2 separate regions of the Homo sapiens genome follow, and region 1 is linked to region 2. Evidence: fine-mapped expression QTL. Tissue or cell type: whole blood. Region 2 holds a variant in brackets; the other region holds the start of a gene. All regions are shown on one strand. Distances are between the middles of the regions.

The links. PIP is the estimated chance that this variant, and not a neighbour inherited with it, causes the effect.
Region 1: GLB1 starts here. The variant in region 2 is fine-mapped to the expression of GLB1 in whole blood (TOPMed, PIP 0.95).

What each region holds. Positions count from the first base shown.
Region 1 is chr3:33,093,291-33,101,380 of GRCh38, forward strand. GLB1 (galactosidase beta 1) reads right to left here and starts at 3,856. Exons shown (of 16, transcript NM_000404.4): 1 at 3,721-3,856. The coding sequence starts at 3,795. TMPPE (transmembrane protein with metallophosphoesterase domain) reads right to left here and starts at 3,856. Exons shown (of 2, transcript NM_001039770.3): 1 at 3,429-3,856; 2 at 1-1,013. The coding sequence starts at 905. RefSeq lists a silencer at 3,444-4,053.
Region 2 is chr3:33,002,798-33,010,903 of GRCh38, forward strand. All of the region lies in intron 15 of GLB1 (galactosidase beta 1), which reads right to left. Among named protein-coding and RNA genes, the nearest start is that of CCR4, 55 kb to the left of the region's middle. The variant G/T (reference allele first, on the strand shown) is at 3,373.

The DNA of each region.
Region 1 (8,090 bases), 90 kb after region 2:
TTATGAAGAGGCTGGACATGCAGGGATTCCAGAAGTGCAAACCAGTTGCTGACATCTGACGTGTAGTACTCATGATTGCCTGTGACGAAGTAGGCACCGAGATGTGAATGAAGCTGGCCCAGAGGAGCGACAGCCGTCCGCAGGACCGAGGCTTCTGAGTCGGAGAGGTCACCCACAATCACCGTGATGTCTGGTTCCAGCACATTCACCATCCTCACAAACATTTCCATCTTGGTCCTGCCCACTGTGGGGCCCAAGTGAATGTCTGAGAGGAGCACGATCTTGAGGTTGTTCATTGAGGCAGGCAGCTGATGGATGGGCACCTCCACAGTTTTCACAGCCGGGGGCTGCGCGGCATTCAGAATCCCGGCCACGCTGAGCACAGCAGTCACTCCCACTGCCAGGGCAGGCCTGAGCACGAGCTTCCTTGTCTTCTCAAGGCTGCCCACGACCCTACCACTGCGCCAGGCCAAGAGCTGGTAGGCCTGCTCCATGCCGCTGAGGATGAAGAGGAAGAAGAGCATGATGATGTAAGCACCCAGGCAGGAGTAGGCCGCCAAGGAAAAGAGATAGGGCTCTTCGGCCACTAAAAAGAACATGGTAAAGAAACTGGAATGGGCCAGGGCCAGAAATGCCAGAACCACCACCTTCCAAAGCTGAAAACAGGTTGACTCTGCAGCTGGGGAGTGGCAGAGGTTGCTCACTGTGCTGCGCCAAATGTAGAGGGAGCCAATGAGCAAGAGCGAGTTGACAAACAGGGCAAGCTGCAAGCGAAGCAGCCAACGCCAGGCCCTGAGCTCAAGGCTCTCTGCCAGATACGAGCGGGAGGCGATCATGGACACGAAGACAGTGACAGCAGCCAGGGTGGCCTTCGCGCCTAGGGACAGCTGCCTGAAGATGGCCATTTTCTCTGCTCCTAGTAGGCTCCCCCACCAGTTCTGTGCTGGTGGACTCTGGAAATGAGTTCCTTAGAAAGGACAGTGGCCAAGGAGAGGTTTCCAGGTCAACTCCGCCTGCAACCAGGAACCAGCATCAGCTTTGTGGGATATTAGAGTGTCCTTGTACCCATTCAAAACTCAAAGGCCACTTACATCTGCCCAACCCACCTTGAATCCAAGCTACTCAAATACCAGTCAGTTGCTAGCTATACTTTATTATTCAAAAAGAAACTCACAGCATTGTGACATGATGGGCAGTTTTCATTTTCTTACCACATGTTCTATACGTTTAAAGTTTCTCTACAGTAAGCATGTACTTGTTTTATAAAAACATTCCAAATCAGCGGTATTCAAAGTGTGGTCTGGAGAGAGCCCTTCAGGGGTCCAATTAGTCAAAACTATTTTTATTATAATTCCAAGCCATTACTGCCTTTTCCATTCTCACTCTGTCCTGAGGGGGTGGAGTCTTCCAGAGGCTATGTGACATGTGATATGGCAACAGATTTAATGCAGAAATAAACATGAAAATTTGACTGTCTTCTATTAAGAGACATTGAAAGAGATTTGCAGAAATGTAAAACAGTGCAACTCTTCACCCTAAAATTTGGGGAGAAATACTATTGTTTTTCAAATATATATATTGTTTATTAACGTGTAATGATGTAGTATTTCTTAACAAATAGTTTAAAATATTCTCTAGGGCTGGGCACAGTGGCTGACGCCTATAATTCCAGCACTTTGGGAGGCCGAGGCAGGCAGATTACCTGAGGTCAGGAGTTCAAGACCAGCCTGGCCAACATGGTAAAACCCTGTCTCTACTAAAAATTCAAAAATTAGCCAGGCATGGTGGTGGATGCATGTAATCCCAGCTACTCGGGAGGCTGAGGCAGGAGAATCACTTGAACCTGGGAGGTGGAAGTTGTAGTGAGCCAAGATCGTGCCACTGCACTCCAGCCTGGGCAAAAGAGCGAGACTCTGTCTCAAAAAAAAAAAAAAAAAAAAAAAAAGGAATATTCTCTTAATTTCTAGGACAGCTAAAATTTAGTTAAAATTTGAGAACCGCTGGGTCACGAGGTCAGGAGATCGAGACCATCCTGGCTAACATGGTGAAACCCCGTCTCTACTAAAAATACAAAAAAAGAAAAAAATTAGTCGGGTGTGATGGCGGGCGCCTGTAGTCCCAGCTACTCGGGAGGCTGAGGCAGGAGAATGGCGTGAACCCTAAAGAAATGTAAACAAGGAGATAATGGAAAGCTAGACTGCTGGTATCTTTCTTTAGCTGTGGGCACAGAAGCCCAAGAGGGACACCTAGGCACCTGAAATGAGAATTCCTGGGGTGATGCCAGCCTCCCTGTGTGGGCCTCAGGTATGGCAGCCACAGGGCATCCACCCTGACCCAATGACGCTGCACAAGACTGATGAGCTCACATCAGACAGATTGACCCTGTCCACCTGTTCCTGGTTCATAAATCCTTCTCTCTCTCCCTACCCCCACTCCCAGATACTGGTTAAGATCTGCCTTTCCCCTAGCCCCTTACCCTGCCACTGTTCTCCTGAACTGTGCCCCAGTTCCACCTTCCCCAGTGGTTCTCACAGCTGGCTAGCTCTGACTCCTAAGGTCCTACGGGCCTTCTGGACAAGAAAACTCTGTCTACATACTGGGGTAGGGGAACCACAGACGGGGTGAAGAGGGAGCAGCAAATAATCTGTGCTGACTTTTTCCCAAAATGAAAACATTTTCAGCAGCTGTTTTCCAAATACTTAAGATGTTCAATCTTGGTTGTAGATAAATGTACCACTTTTCTCTGCCCTAGGCACGTTATTGAAAGCGTTATTAAAGGGTGTAACTTACAAGTCAACGGTGTCAAATGCTACCAGCTCTTACTTAAAGCATACTGCAGGCTCAGCCCACCTACACCCTGGAGGAACCAAAGTTGGTCCGCGGAACGTGCAGAGGAGCAGCTTGCAACTACCCACTCTCCTTTCCGCAGGTGTGATGCAAACCTCCCCAGGCAGCGCTTTGGAGCCCCTCAGCCAGTCGCCTCAGCTCGGACGCAGCGAGTGAAGCTGTCCTTCCTCTCCCACCAACTGTGCACGCCCCGCACCTCACCTATTCGCCTCGCCAGCCCTGCCCCGATCAACGATGGCATCCCCCGGCAGCCTGCCTATTCCCCCCCTCAACCTGGACCCCCAAACGCCGAAGGAAAACGGTCCCACAAATACAAAGAAAAACCCAAGCCAAAGGGCAGGCGACGGGGAGTGGTGAGAAAGGAACAAGATGCACGAAGAGGGAGAGCACCCAGAGGGGAAATAACCCAATGTTCCCACTGCAAGGGCCTCTCCTGACCCCATTTTTCTCCTTCCGGAGCGCTCCGCAGAGCACCAACTGGGAAAGCGAGGGCGCCCCAAACCAGAGCCGGAGGCACCCTCTAACCCGCGCAACTTGGAATCCCCTCCCGGAAAGCCAACTTAGGAAATGTTTACACGCACCTCGTCTCAACACCTCGTTACAGATGGGGAAGTGGATCCAAGCGCAAAGGGCGGCCGGAGCGGAACGCACAAGCGACCGAGCTGCCTGGAAGGACGCGCGCCCCGCCCGGCCCGCCCCCGACGGGAAGGCCGGTCCACTGCCTGCGTTCCGCCGGCCGCGAGCCTGCTGGGGGGCACTTCGGGGCTCAGGCTCCCCGCCCTGCGGGACCGCGGGTGGCTGCGACCCCAGCCCGGTTCCCCGCCAGCCTGTCCCCTAGCAATGCCTCCCCGTACCCGGGTCCCGCAGACTTACGCGCAAGCCGCGCGTAGGGCCCAGAAGCAGCAGAACCAGCAACAGAGGGAGGATGCGAACCAGGAACCCCGGCATGACCACCAGCCTCCCGGCTCTGCAGTCGGCGCCCAGGCCGGCCGCTTCGCGTCACTTGACTAAGGACCCACGGCCTGGCACCGCCCCTCGTCGGCCCAGCAGCCAGCCCTCGCGCCTGCTCAGCCCCGCGCCCCGCCCCGCTGTGGCCGAGCCGGGCGGGTGGGGGCGGCTAGGAGGCTGCGCGCCGCCGCGTGACTCCAGGATAGTACTATCTGGGTTTTGCAGGCGTCTTCCCTGGGAAGGGACCCTTTGGAACTGCAGTCCGGAGGGCCTGCTTTCAGCAGCTTGATAACGCGCCTCGGGGATTGGACATGAATCATGGTCTCCCTGTTCCCTGGCTGCCTTGAGAGAGCAGAAGAGGGAAATTGTTAATCATTAAACCTAAACGCCCTAGATGGAATCCGCGTCTCATATACGGGCTCTTTGAATAACTCTAAGCCGGGGGTTAGCAAAATGTGGTCGGTCCCTGGAGCCACTGTATCAACTCACCTGGAACTTGTTAGAATGAAAATCCTGCTCACGCCTGTAATCCCAGCACTTTGGGAGGCCGAGGCGGGCGGATCGCCTGAGGTCAGGAGTTCCAGACCAGCCTGACCAGTATGATGAAACCCCGTCTCTACTAAAAATACAAAAATTAGCCGGGCGTGGTGGCAGGCGCCTGTAATCCCAGCTACTGAGGAGGCTGAGACAGGAGAATCGCTTGAACCCGGGAGGTGGAGGTTGCAGTAAACCGAGATCGAGCCATTGCGCTCCAGCCTGGGCAATAAGAGCGAAATTCCGTATCAAAAAAAAATTTTCTTTTTTAAAATAACCTTAGTTTATGCCTTGGTGTTCCAAAAAGCCTTTTTACATTGTATAACAAAGTAGCCAAAATTCTATTTGTTCACTCCTTTCTCCTTTCCTACCGGACATGTCCTTGAGAGATTGAGAAAGTATCAGAAAGGACATTTCATTGAGAGATTGAGAAAGTATCAGTTACTGGCTTTTCTTAGGTTTTTGTTTTTTGGTTTGGGGGGTTGTTTTTTTGTTTTGTTTTTGTGTTTTTTGAGACAGGGTCTCACTCTGTCACCCAGGCTGGAGTGGGGCGCAATCACGGCTTACTGCAGCTTTGGCCTCCTGGGCTCAAGCAATTCTCCCGTCTCAGCCTACCAAGTGGCTGGGACTACAGGCGTGCGCCACCACACCCGGCTAATTTTTGTATTTTTTGTAGAGACAGGGTCTCACCACGTTTCCCAGGCAGGTCTTGAAGTTCTGGGATCAAGCAATCTACCTGCCTGGAACTCCCAAAATGCTGGAATTACAGACATGAGCCACCGTGCCTGGCTTCTTTTCATGCCTGTAGTACCAATTCCGTGTCCTTGCACTGTGAAGTCCTTTCCAAGCTCTGCAATTCTAGTTCAGTATTAAAGAACAAGGGCTCTGGAGGAAGTACACTTGAGTTGGAATTCCAGCTCTGCCACTTACTGTCTGTGTAACTGTGGGCAAATTACTTAACCTCTCTGAGCTTAGTTTCTTTGTTGGTAAAGCAGGGCTAATAATATCAAATTCACTGGATAATTGGGGAAATTACCAGAGATGATGACGATAAGAAGCTTGGTATATACAGGATGTTAGTGGGACAGTTGATGAAATCAGAATTAGACTTGTAGGTTAGATTAGTACCATGCATCAATGTTAATTTCCTTTTTGGGGGGGTGGGGGGACAGAGTCTCACTCTGTCACCCAGGCTGGAGTGCAGTGGCACAATCTCGGCTCACTGCAACCTCCGCCTCCCAGGTTCAAGTGATTCTCCCACCTCAGCCTCCAAAGTAGCTGGGATTACAGGCACCCACCACTAGGCTTGGCTAATTTTTGTATTTTTAGTAGAGATGGGGTATCACCATGTTAGCCAGGCTGGTCTGGAGCTCTTGACCTCAAGTGATTTGCCCACCTCGGCCTCCCAAAGTGCTGGGATTACAGGCATGAGCCACTGTGCCCGGCCGCATCAATGTTAACTTTCTGATTTTGATAATGGTACACGGTCTAAATATTAAATAATAGTTTTGTATTAGTGTATTGATTTGGGTAACGGTAATGGTAATTTTGGTAATGGTTATATAAAAGAACATCCTTGTTTTTTAGGAAACAAAAGGGCATCATCTTTGCAACTGATTCTCAAACAGTTCACAAAAAAAAATGGAGAGAGAGAGAAAGAGAGAGAGAGAGAGGGAGAGAAATGGTATTCCAGGCATGAAAAGAACGTGAGAAAGAAAAGCAAATGTGGTAAAATGTTAACATTTGGAAAATCAATGAAGGAATTATTTTTACTCTTTTTTTCAACTTTTTGTTTCTAAGCCTGAAATTATTGCAGAACGAAGTTTAAAAACAAAACAAAACAAAAATCCTTAACACATGGCAGATTCAACTTCTTCTACCTTCTTTCCTACTCTGTACACTCAGGGTTATCATATGCAATAGGTATTTTTAACTGAACTGAGGTAGAAAGGGTTTAGAGCAGGAGTTGGCAAACTAAGGGCAGAGGATCAAATCTGGCCTGCTGCCTGTTTTTCTTTTTCTTTTTAAAATTCTTTTTACTAAGAATCGGCACAATTTGCTGCCAGTTTTTCTATGGCCTGCCACCTAAAAATGGTTTTTACATTTTTAAATGAATGAAAAAAAATCAAAAGAATAATATTTTATGACATTTGAAAATGTTGTAAGTTTCCTGTGTCAGTGTCCATAAATAAAGTTTTGTGGGGTTGGTTTTTGTTTTTTTTGTTTTGTTTTGTTTTTTTAGACACAGTCTTGCTCTGTCACCCAGGCTGGAGTGCAGTGGTGCAATCATAGCTCACAGCAGCCTTGAACTCCTGAGCTGAAGCAGTCGTCCCATGTCGGCCTCCTGAGTAGCTAAGTAGCTGGGACTACAGGCGAGTGCCACCATGCCTGAATAATTTTTTTTTTTCTAAAGACAAGATCTTGCCTTGTTGCCAGGGTTGGTCTTGAACTCCTGGCCTCAAGTAATCTGCCCACTTTGGCTGCCAAAGTGCCAAGATTACACATAAATAGTTTTCTTAGAACACAGCCACCTATAATCCTCTGCATATTGCATATGGTTGCTTTCACGCTACAACGGTAGAATGGAGTAGTTGCAACACAGATCTTAGGACCTACAAAACTGAATATATTTATGTTCTAGCCCTTTACAGTATAAGCTTGCCAAAGGAATATAGATTGTAGATTGTTTCTGAGATTTTTAGTATTTGACTATGTTTGTAGTTGAAATGGCAATAGTAGTAATAGCCATTGTTGTGCTGAATGCTTTACCAGTATGTGTCACTATTCCTCCCAATCCGAGCTGCATGCTCTTATCCACATTTCACAGATGAGAAAGCTGAGACCCAGAGGAGTTAAATGACTTGCCAGTAGCCACAGAGCTGGGGAGCAGTAGAGTCTCTAAAGTTACATTGCCTGACGTTAGGGCCTGAGTTATTTTCACAAGGCTATGCTTCTGCTCATAGTGTACTGTTTGGTTCCCATTTAAATGCACAGACAGAGTGTGCTGGATGCAAAGCCCCCTGCATACTGGAGAATATGAAGGGACCATGAGAAGGCTGTCACCCTGCAGGCACTCATCTCTAAACATGGTACATGCTCTAATATAGACTAATACTTCTCAGAGTCTGATCCTTAGACCAGTGCTGTGCAATAAGTACAGAAATTCAGCCTAGGCACTTAGAAACTTGCAGCAATTTGAGAAAGTAAGTCTATCTGTTGAATCTAATAATGAACAAAATCATTACGCATCTATTTTTATTTCATTGTTCTAGTAATGTTTTATTTTTATTTTTTTAGACAGAGTTTCGCTTTTATTGCCCAGGCTGGAGTGCAATGGCACGATCTTGGCTCACTGCAACCTCTGCCTCCTGGATTCAAGCGATTCTCCTGCCTCAGCCTCCTGAGTAGCTGGGATTACAGGCATGTGCCACCATGCCCCGCTACTTTTATATTTTCAGTAGAGATGGGGTTTCTCCATGTTGGTCAGGCTGGTCTCAAACTCCTGACCTCAGGTGATCCACCTGCCTCGGCCTCCCAAAGTGCTGGGATTACAGGCGTGAGCCACCACGCCTGGCCTCTAGTAGTTTTTGTTTGTTTGTTTTTGAGACAGAGTTTCACTTTGTCGCCCAGACTGGAGCGCAGTGGCATGATCTTGGCTCACTGCAACCTCCACCTCCTGGGTTCTCGCAATTAAACCTCGGCCTCCTGAGTAGCTGGGACTACAGGCTCACACCACCATGCCAGGCTGATTTTTTCGTATT
Region 2 (8,106 bases):
CTTTGTCACACTCTGAAAGAAAACATTTAGACACTTGCAGGACTTAAAATGGGAAAGACAAAGGTCCAGTTCCCAAGGTTAAAGGCTCTCACACACCGAACTCATGAATCACTGTGATGCTTACCTGGGAGAAAGAGAAGAAAAAGAGGAGAATTGAAAAGAAAAAAAGGTAAAAGCCTCTTACAAGGCTTGCTTAGAAATAAGAGGTTAAATAGATCTCAATGAAATACACAGAAGATTAATTCTCCCCTTCCTTCAGAACCCCAAAAGGCTCTGCAGCTGACGCAAATCACACTTTTTTGCTTCCTCCTCAGTCTTAAAGTAATAAAATTAAATAACTTTATGGTTTCTCTATATTTTGGGACAGGTCCAAATAGAACTGAAGCCATCAAATGCATAAAATAACAGCATAAAAGATAAATCACTTCTCATCAAATCCCAAATAAAAATTCTTTTTCCTTCTCAACTTCCAACAGTTCCACCATAGCTAGACCTTTTTAATACAATAGCTTACCTAACAACAGTCGTCAAACCACCTCACGTATCTGGAACCAAGCTAGGAACTGATAAGCAAAAACTACTGCCTCATGTCATATTTGTTATAAAGTTCACAACCTAAAAATTGAAGAAGACCTTCTTTCACTTCTAGCCTATTTACCCATTTACAAAAGTTCTAACAAGTTTTGTTGCTAAATTAACATAATATTTGTTGAGAGTAGTCTGATGGTCTAGTTTCAAAGTTCACGGGACTTGTGCAACTGGAAACAGTGAATTAGACGGAAATAGTAGGTCTTGTAGGAGGTAAGCATAACTGCAAATTAGACAAAAAAGAAGTTTAACAAGCACATCAAATTTAGGATGAAAGTAGGGTCCAATAGTGTTAAGACCTGTGGGATATTGAACAGATGGCCCCAATTATTAGTGGGTCCCTCTATCAAGAAGTAGAATCTGTCTGGGCATGGTGGCTCACTCCTGTAATCCCAGCACTTTGGGAGGCCAAGGTGGGTGGATCACCTGAGGTCAGGAGTTCCAGACCAGCCTGGCCTACATGGTGAAACCCCATCTCTACTAAAAATACAAAAATCAGCCAGGTATGGTGGTGTGCACCTGTAATCCCAGCTACTCAGGAGGCTGAGGCAGGAGAATCGCTTGAACCTGGGAGGCGGAGGTTGCAATGAGCTGAGATCGTGTCGCTGCACTCCAGCTTGGGCAACAGAGTGAGACTCCATTTCAAAAAAAAAAAGGGGTAGAACATGTTTCTCCATTCCTTGGATCTGGCTGGTCTAGTGACATATTTTGGCCAAACAACGTGGAAGAAGTGACATGTGAATCCTGACTTTGGCCTTAAGGAGCCTTGCGCATTTGCATTCTTTCTTTGAACCCTGCTCAGTCGTGTGAACCCTGCTAGTCATGTGAACAAGCCTAGGCTAGCTTGCTGGATGATGAAAGAGAGATGGTCTCATCTTCTCTGTTGCCTCAGCTGACAGATGGCTAACACCCAGGTGGTCATGCCCAGCTGAGACCAGCAAAACCACTACTTGGTCTGCCAATACTCAAAATCGTGAACTAAATAAACTGTTGTCGTTTTAATCCACTAAGTTTTGGGTGGCTCGTTATGCAGCAGAAGCTAACTGATACACATCTCCATGGTCAGAAGGTGCCTAAGCATGCTACTTTTCAGGAAAGTGAGTGACGTTTAAAAACTCAATTTAAAAATAGTAGAGCCATCCACTACTTAGTCAGTCCCACTTTCACTGATCAATCACCAAATCCCACTGGGGCTTCCTCAGCCATGTCTGTGCCTTTCTCAGGATTGCTGAGAACAGCTGGGTGAGAAGACACCTGTGAGCACTCAGTACTGTAGCCAGCACATGGTAAGCTCTCAGATGTGGCTGGTACTATTACTATTTCCTGAAGCTGGACCGCCCTCCCTCCCTACTGCCACACTCAAGTCCAGCTCTGTTCCTTCTCTCTGGACCACTTCTCCAGCAGAAGAGTAGCTTTCAGGGGTAACAGGGAGAGAGTTCTGTTTTATACCTATCAGGCTGGAGGTGCCTATGAGACCCCCAAAGGTGGGCTCCAGAGCCTTGTAAGAGCTGAGCTGGAAAAGGAAATGTAAGCATGTCCAGCACATCTGTGAGGACAATCCCCAAAAGTGTAAGAAGAGAGCCCAGGACCAAGTCCTGAGGACTGCAACATAGAAGCTGACAGAGAAGCCTGAGAAGGAGCAAAGAGAGGGAAGAAAACCAGGAGAAGTTTGGGCACGCAAGTCAGGAGAAGCAATCCCCCCACCTCTCACCAAGTAGCTGGGACTGCAGGTGCCATCATGCCCTTGTAACTATCCTATGGTTATCTAGGGGCTCCATCCTAAGTCGCCTCATTAGCACAAACCCAGGTGGGATTGAAAGAGGCTAGTTATGAATAACAAAAGACACTCCTACCACTCAGAAAATTCCAAGGGTTTTAGGGCCCTGGAACCAGGGACAAAGACCAAATATATTTCTTACTATACTATTCCCTTGAAAAATATCAATCCCTCTGCACAAAATATCCTTCCCACTAGGAAGACCAGACCTTTCCCAGCAATCTTAAGCACTTATAATTTCTTCCTCTCCAAGGCCCAACTGCATGGTTTACATATCTCTTACAGACTCTTATAATCCTCTTGGGCTCTTTCTATACCTCTGTCTCTCCAAATGGATTGAGACCAAGTGACTAACACTGATAAGGTTTTAAAAGTTTTACATACTCTTTTCTGGCATAATCATGTCTCAGTGCAGCCTTGATTTGCTGGGCTCAAGCAATCCTCCCATCTCCCACCAAGTAGCTGGGACTACAGGTGCATGCCACCAAGCCCAGCTAATTCAAAAATTTTTTTTGTAGAGATGAGGTCTTATTAAGTTGCCTAGGCTGGTCTCAAACCCCTGAGCTCAAGTGATCCTACCACCTCGGTCTCCCAAAGGGCTAGGATTACAGGTGTGAGCCATCGCGTCGGCCAGGAAATTTCAAAAGCAAGATGCAACAAACAGTTAAAAGAAGGAATTTCTTTCAACCGTTTATCATACATTGTTTTATTTCATAGTTATTTTACATCTTGAAGGTGGGACAATTTATCTTTAAAATACAGAATTACTTTTCATCAGTATTCTATTTTGATTCTTGACTCTTCAAAGCATAATTTTGGTTAAGGAAAAATGGACACTATCCCACTCACACCATGCTCTGTCATGCACCTAAACCTACCACAAAATGTTGAAGGCTGCATAGGATATTGACAGGAGACTTATCCACACCCAGCTGAAAGAGAGATAAATAGCACAAGCACTGCTGCAGTGGCAGAACATGACATTTCAGGTTTGGCATATAGCAGGG[G/T]TCCCCAAACCCCAGGCCACAGACTGGTCTGCGGCCTGTTAGGAACCGGGCCGCACAGTGAGAGGTGAGCGAGCATTACTGCCTGAGCGCCACCTCCTGTCAGATCGGCAGCAGCATCAGATTCTCATAGGAGCAGGAACCCTATTGTGAACTGCGCACGCGAGGGATATAGGCTGTGCACTCCTTATGAGAATCTAACTAATGCCTGATGATTTGAGGTGGAACAGTTTCATCCCAAAACCATTTCCACCCCCCCACCCCTGACCACACAGTCCATGGAAACAGTGTCTTCCACGAAACTAGTCCCTGATACCAACAAGGTTGGGGACCACTGGCATACAGGACATATTGTGGAAAGCACTGGAGAAGAACGCTTCCTATCTAATGGACTTTCCAGTCAGATAAGAACTCAGTGAGGTCAAAGCATTGCCCTGTGTCTGCTGGACAGAGCAGAACATGCCTGACCCCTTTCTACTGAAGTCCCAGTTGATATTCATTCACATCTGGCATTAACCAGAAAGCCACATCCGACTCAAGTAAAGCCAGTGTAAACAAAAGTGATTTTTTAATCTTATGAATCGCCCTTATCAGTGACTTTGCTCTCTAAATCAAGGTAGTTTCTTTACAGTAAAATGAATAGGAAGAGCATAGAGTCCTGTGCCAGGGCCTTTGACAAGGGCCTCTCCTGATGAAGGATGTGGGGGTTAGTGCACAGCCTTAGAAACAGCTGGGGCTTCAGGGATCATTTTGTCCAACCCCACACCGCAACTGCCAGCTCCCTGCATTCAAACCATGTGCTAACGTGCTCATTCTTTCAAATGTCAGAGCTTAGCACTCAGTGTGGGAGTGGGATCTGCCTGTTCTGAGGTGGCTGATCATTTAGAAGCCCCAGAGCTGGCCTGGGACTGTCCCCAGCAGCAGGGACCACTGTGCACCAGAAAACAGAAACCACATTGGTTCTGTGTTAGGTAGGATGTGTGTGTACCCTTGGACCTTCACACGCATTCAGTCCAAAGTCCACAAACTTCTTGGATGGGCCTTGTGTGTGGCACTTTATTGACATAGAATTCATATACCATACAATTCAGCAGTCTTTAGTATACTACAGAGCTGCACAACCATTACCAAAGTCAATTATAGAACATTTCGTCACTCCGTTAAGAAGCCCTGTACCCTTTAACATTCTCTTCCCATCCAACCAACACTCTCTTTTCCCTGCTCTAGGCAATCACAGATCTTCCTGTCTATATGAATTTGCCTGTTCCGGACATTTCATGTAAATGGAATCATGCAACATACAGTCCTTTGTGACTGGCGTCTTTCATTAGCCTAATGTTTTCAAAATTCTTCCATGTTGTAACATGTATCAATACTTCATTTCTTTTTATTGCTGAATCATATTCCATTGTATGGATGTACTACATTTCGTTTATTCATTCCTCAGCTGATGGACATTTGGGCTGTTTCCACCTTTTGGCAATTATGGATAACGGTGCAATGAACAGTTGTGTACAAGTGTTTGAGTGGACATATGGATTAGATGGGCTTTTGGGGGTCTGAACCCTTTGACACATTCACAAATACTGTGTGGAGATGTACTTTCAAGCCTGGAGATGCAGAGCATTCATCAGACTGACCAAATAAGTAAAGAGCCCCAGCCTAGATAATGAGTATGAGTTCCTCACCGGTTCTCAATGCTGCCTGCTTTTTCACATGGGCCTTCAAGACACGGCTGGGGCTCAGGTAGATGTGCCACTGAGCACTTCTGTACCTCGTACAAGTTACTTAGCTATCTAAGCCTCCAGCTACTCATCTGCAAACTGGAGATAATGATCCATCTACCACAGGTGCCTCTTTTGATGGCTACGGAGATAGTGTCTATAAAGCGTTGAGCAGAACGCCTGGGTCAGTAACTCTTGCGTGTGACACCTTTAAGACTTGGCCAAGATGAACCTCCCTCTGACCTCCAACACATCCCACACTTTTCCATTGGTCTCTACTGCATTAGGAGGGGAGAAAAAGAGGGATCGAGGGAACAAGAACTTGCTAGCTAAAGGGGGAAGATCCAGGGAGGGCTTTCTTTGTGTTTAGGTCCTAGAGCTCCTAGTTACCACTTTTTGGCTGAAAAATGGGACTCGGCAGAAAGATGGAGAGGCTGACAAAATGCAGGTAGAGGAAATATGAGAACAGGATCTTGCCCTGAAGGAAGAAGGTGGGGAGGAGATTCAGAATTCAGACTTCCTCCTAGATACCACTGGGCAGGAAATGAGGTTGGAGGCAGAGAGATAAGTCTGACAGGAAGCTGAGGGAACAAAGGAGTTACACCTGATAGCAGTCAAGGAGGATGAGGTCTTCAGTGGAGAGGGTGGAGAGTCAGGTGGCTTAAGGAGGGTGCTGAAGGTTGAAAAGGCCAGTGGGGGAAAGGAGCAGAGAGAGACCAAGGACTGCTGGGCAAATCTGAGGGCTTCTGGAGGCTGGCAACAATGAGGGGATGGTAGCCACGATGAATGCGCTGAGAAGTCCCTTAGCTGTGCTCAGTGACTGGTGAACCAGCAGAGACACCAGTAGTGGATCCATTCTACATGGAGGAGGAATGAAGGAGGCAGAGTAGAAGGCCAAAGGGGCAAGGGGGCAGGTGGACTGATGACTCTTAAAAAAAGATCGTGGTGGCCGGGCGCAGTGGTTCACGCCTGTAATCCCAGCACTCTGGGAGGCCGAGGCAGGCAGATCACCTGACGTCGGGAGTTTGAGACTGGCCTGACCAACATGGAGAAACCCCGTCTCTACTAAAAATACAAAATTAGCCAGGCGTGGTGGTGCATGCCTGTAATCCCAGCTACATGGGAGGCTGAGGCAGGAGAATCGCTTGAACCTGGGAGGCGGAGGTTGCAGTGAGCCAAGATTGTGCCACTGTACTCCAGCCTGGGCAACAAGAATGAAACTCCATCTTAAAAAATAAATAAATAAATAAATAAATAAATAAATAAAAAAGATTGTGGTAAGGCCTAGGCTTGGTAGAGGAAGAACTGCAGCCTTAATGGTGGAATGTTTCAGGTCATTAATAAGATTTAAGGCCGGGTGCAGTGGTTCATGCCTGTAATCCCAGCACTTCGGGAGGCCAAGGCAGGTGGACCACGAGGTCAGGAGTTCAAGACCAGCCTGGCCAACACGGTGAAACCCCATCTCTACTAAAAACACAAAAATCAGCCAAGTGTGGTGGGGGGTGCCTGTAATCCCAGCTACTCGAGAGGCTGAGACAGGAGGATCACTTGAACCCAGGAGGCGGAGGTTGCAGTGAGCCGAGATTGTGCCATTGCACTCCAGCCTGGGTGACAAGAGCAAGACTGTCTCAAAAAAATAAAAAAAAAGATTTAAGAGCAAGGTTGGTAGGCATGAGAGTTTGGTGCATAGAAACATGCAGCCAGAGAGAGGATATTAAAGCCTAAAATTCCAAAGGTATGTTCAGCAAGATATATGCCTGTGCTGGGCCATAAAACAAGTCTAAATACATTTAAGAAGACTGTGCAGCCATCATTCAAGTTAGTTTCAGAGCATATCCATCAGCTCCAATAGAAACCCCATGCCCACTTAACAGTCACGCTCCATTCCCACCCTCAGCCCTAGGCAACCAGTAAGCTACTATCTCTATGGATTTGCCTTTTCTGAACATTTCATATAAATGGAGTCATACAATACATAGCCTTTTAGTTTTGGCTTCTTTTACTTAGCATAATATTTTTCCAATTCATCTGGATTGTGGCATGTTATCAGTACTCCATTCCTTTTTATTGAGGAATCGTATGGATATACATGCTTTCTCCACTTGTCAGGTGATAGACATCTGAATTAATTCCAACTTACAGTTATTATAATACTGCTATAAACACTTGCATGTAAGTTTTTATGTGAACATGTTTTCCTTTCTCTTGTGTATATACCTAGGAGCGGAATTGCTGGGTTCTATGGTAATCTATGTTTAGCCCTTGAAGAAATTGCCAAACTATGCTCCCAAATGTACCTTCTTATCTTTCTACCAGCAATGTGGGAAGATTCCCTTTCCCCCATGTCCTTTCCAACATTGCCTATTGTCCTTCTTACTATTTAGCCATCTTGGTGAGTGTGAAGTAGTATTTCATTTTGGTTTTGACTTGCATTTCCCAAATGATTAATAATGTTGAACATTAATCAGCCACTAATTTTAGTTTATAATAGACATTTTACCAAAGAAGGTATACAAATGCAAATGTACTTAGCCATCTTATGCCTTCTTTGGTAAAATGTCTATTCAAGTTCTTTGCTCCTTTTGTGACTGGGCTGTTTGTCTATTATTGAATTGTAAGAATTCTTTACATATTCTAGATATAAGTCCTTTGTTAGATATATGATTTGAAAATTATTTTTCTCCCAGTTTGTGGCTTGGATTCTCATTTTCCTAATAATGCTTTTTGAAGAACAAATATTTTTAATTCTGATAAAGTCCAATTTATCAATTTTTGTTCTTTAAGGATAATGCCTTAGGTGTCAAATCTAAGAAGTCTTTGCCTAACCCAAGATCATGGAGATTTCTCTCCCTAGAGAGAAATTTTAGAAGTTTTATAGAGGAATTAAGTTACAAATTAATAATTACAAGATATTTTTACAAACCCAAAATATGTGGAAATTAAACAGCATACTTTTTTTGTTTGTTTGTTTTTGTTTTGTTTTTGAGACACAGTCTTGCTTTGTCACCCAGGC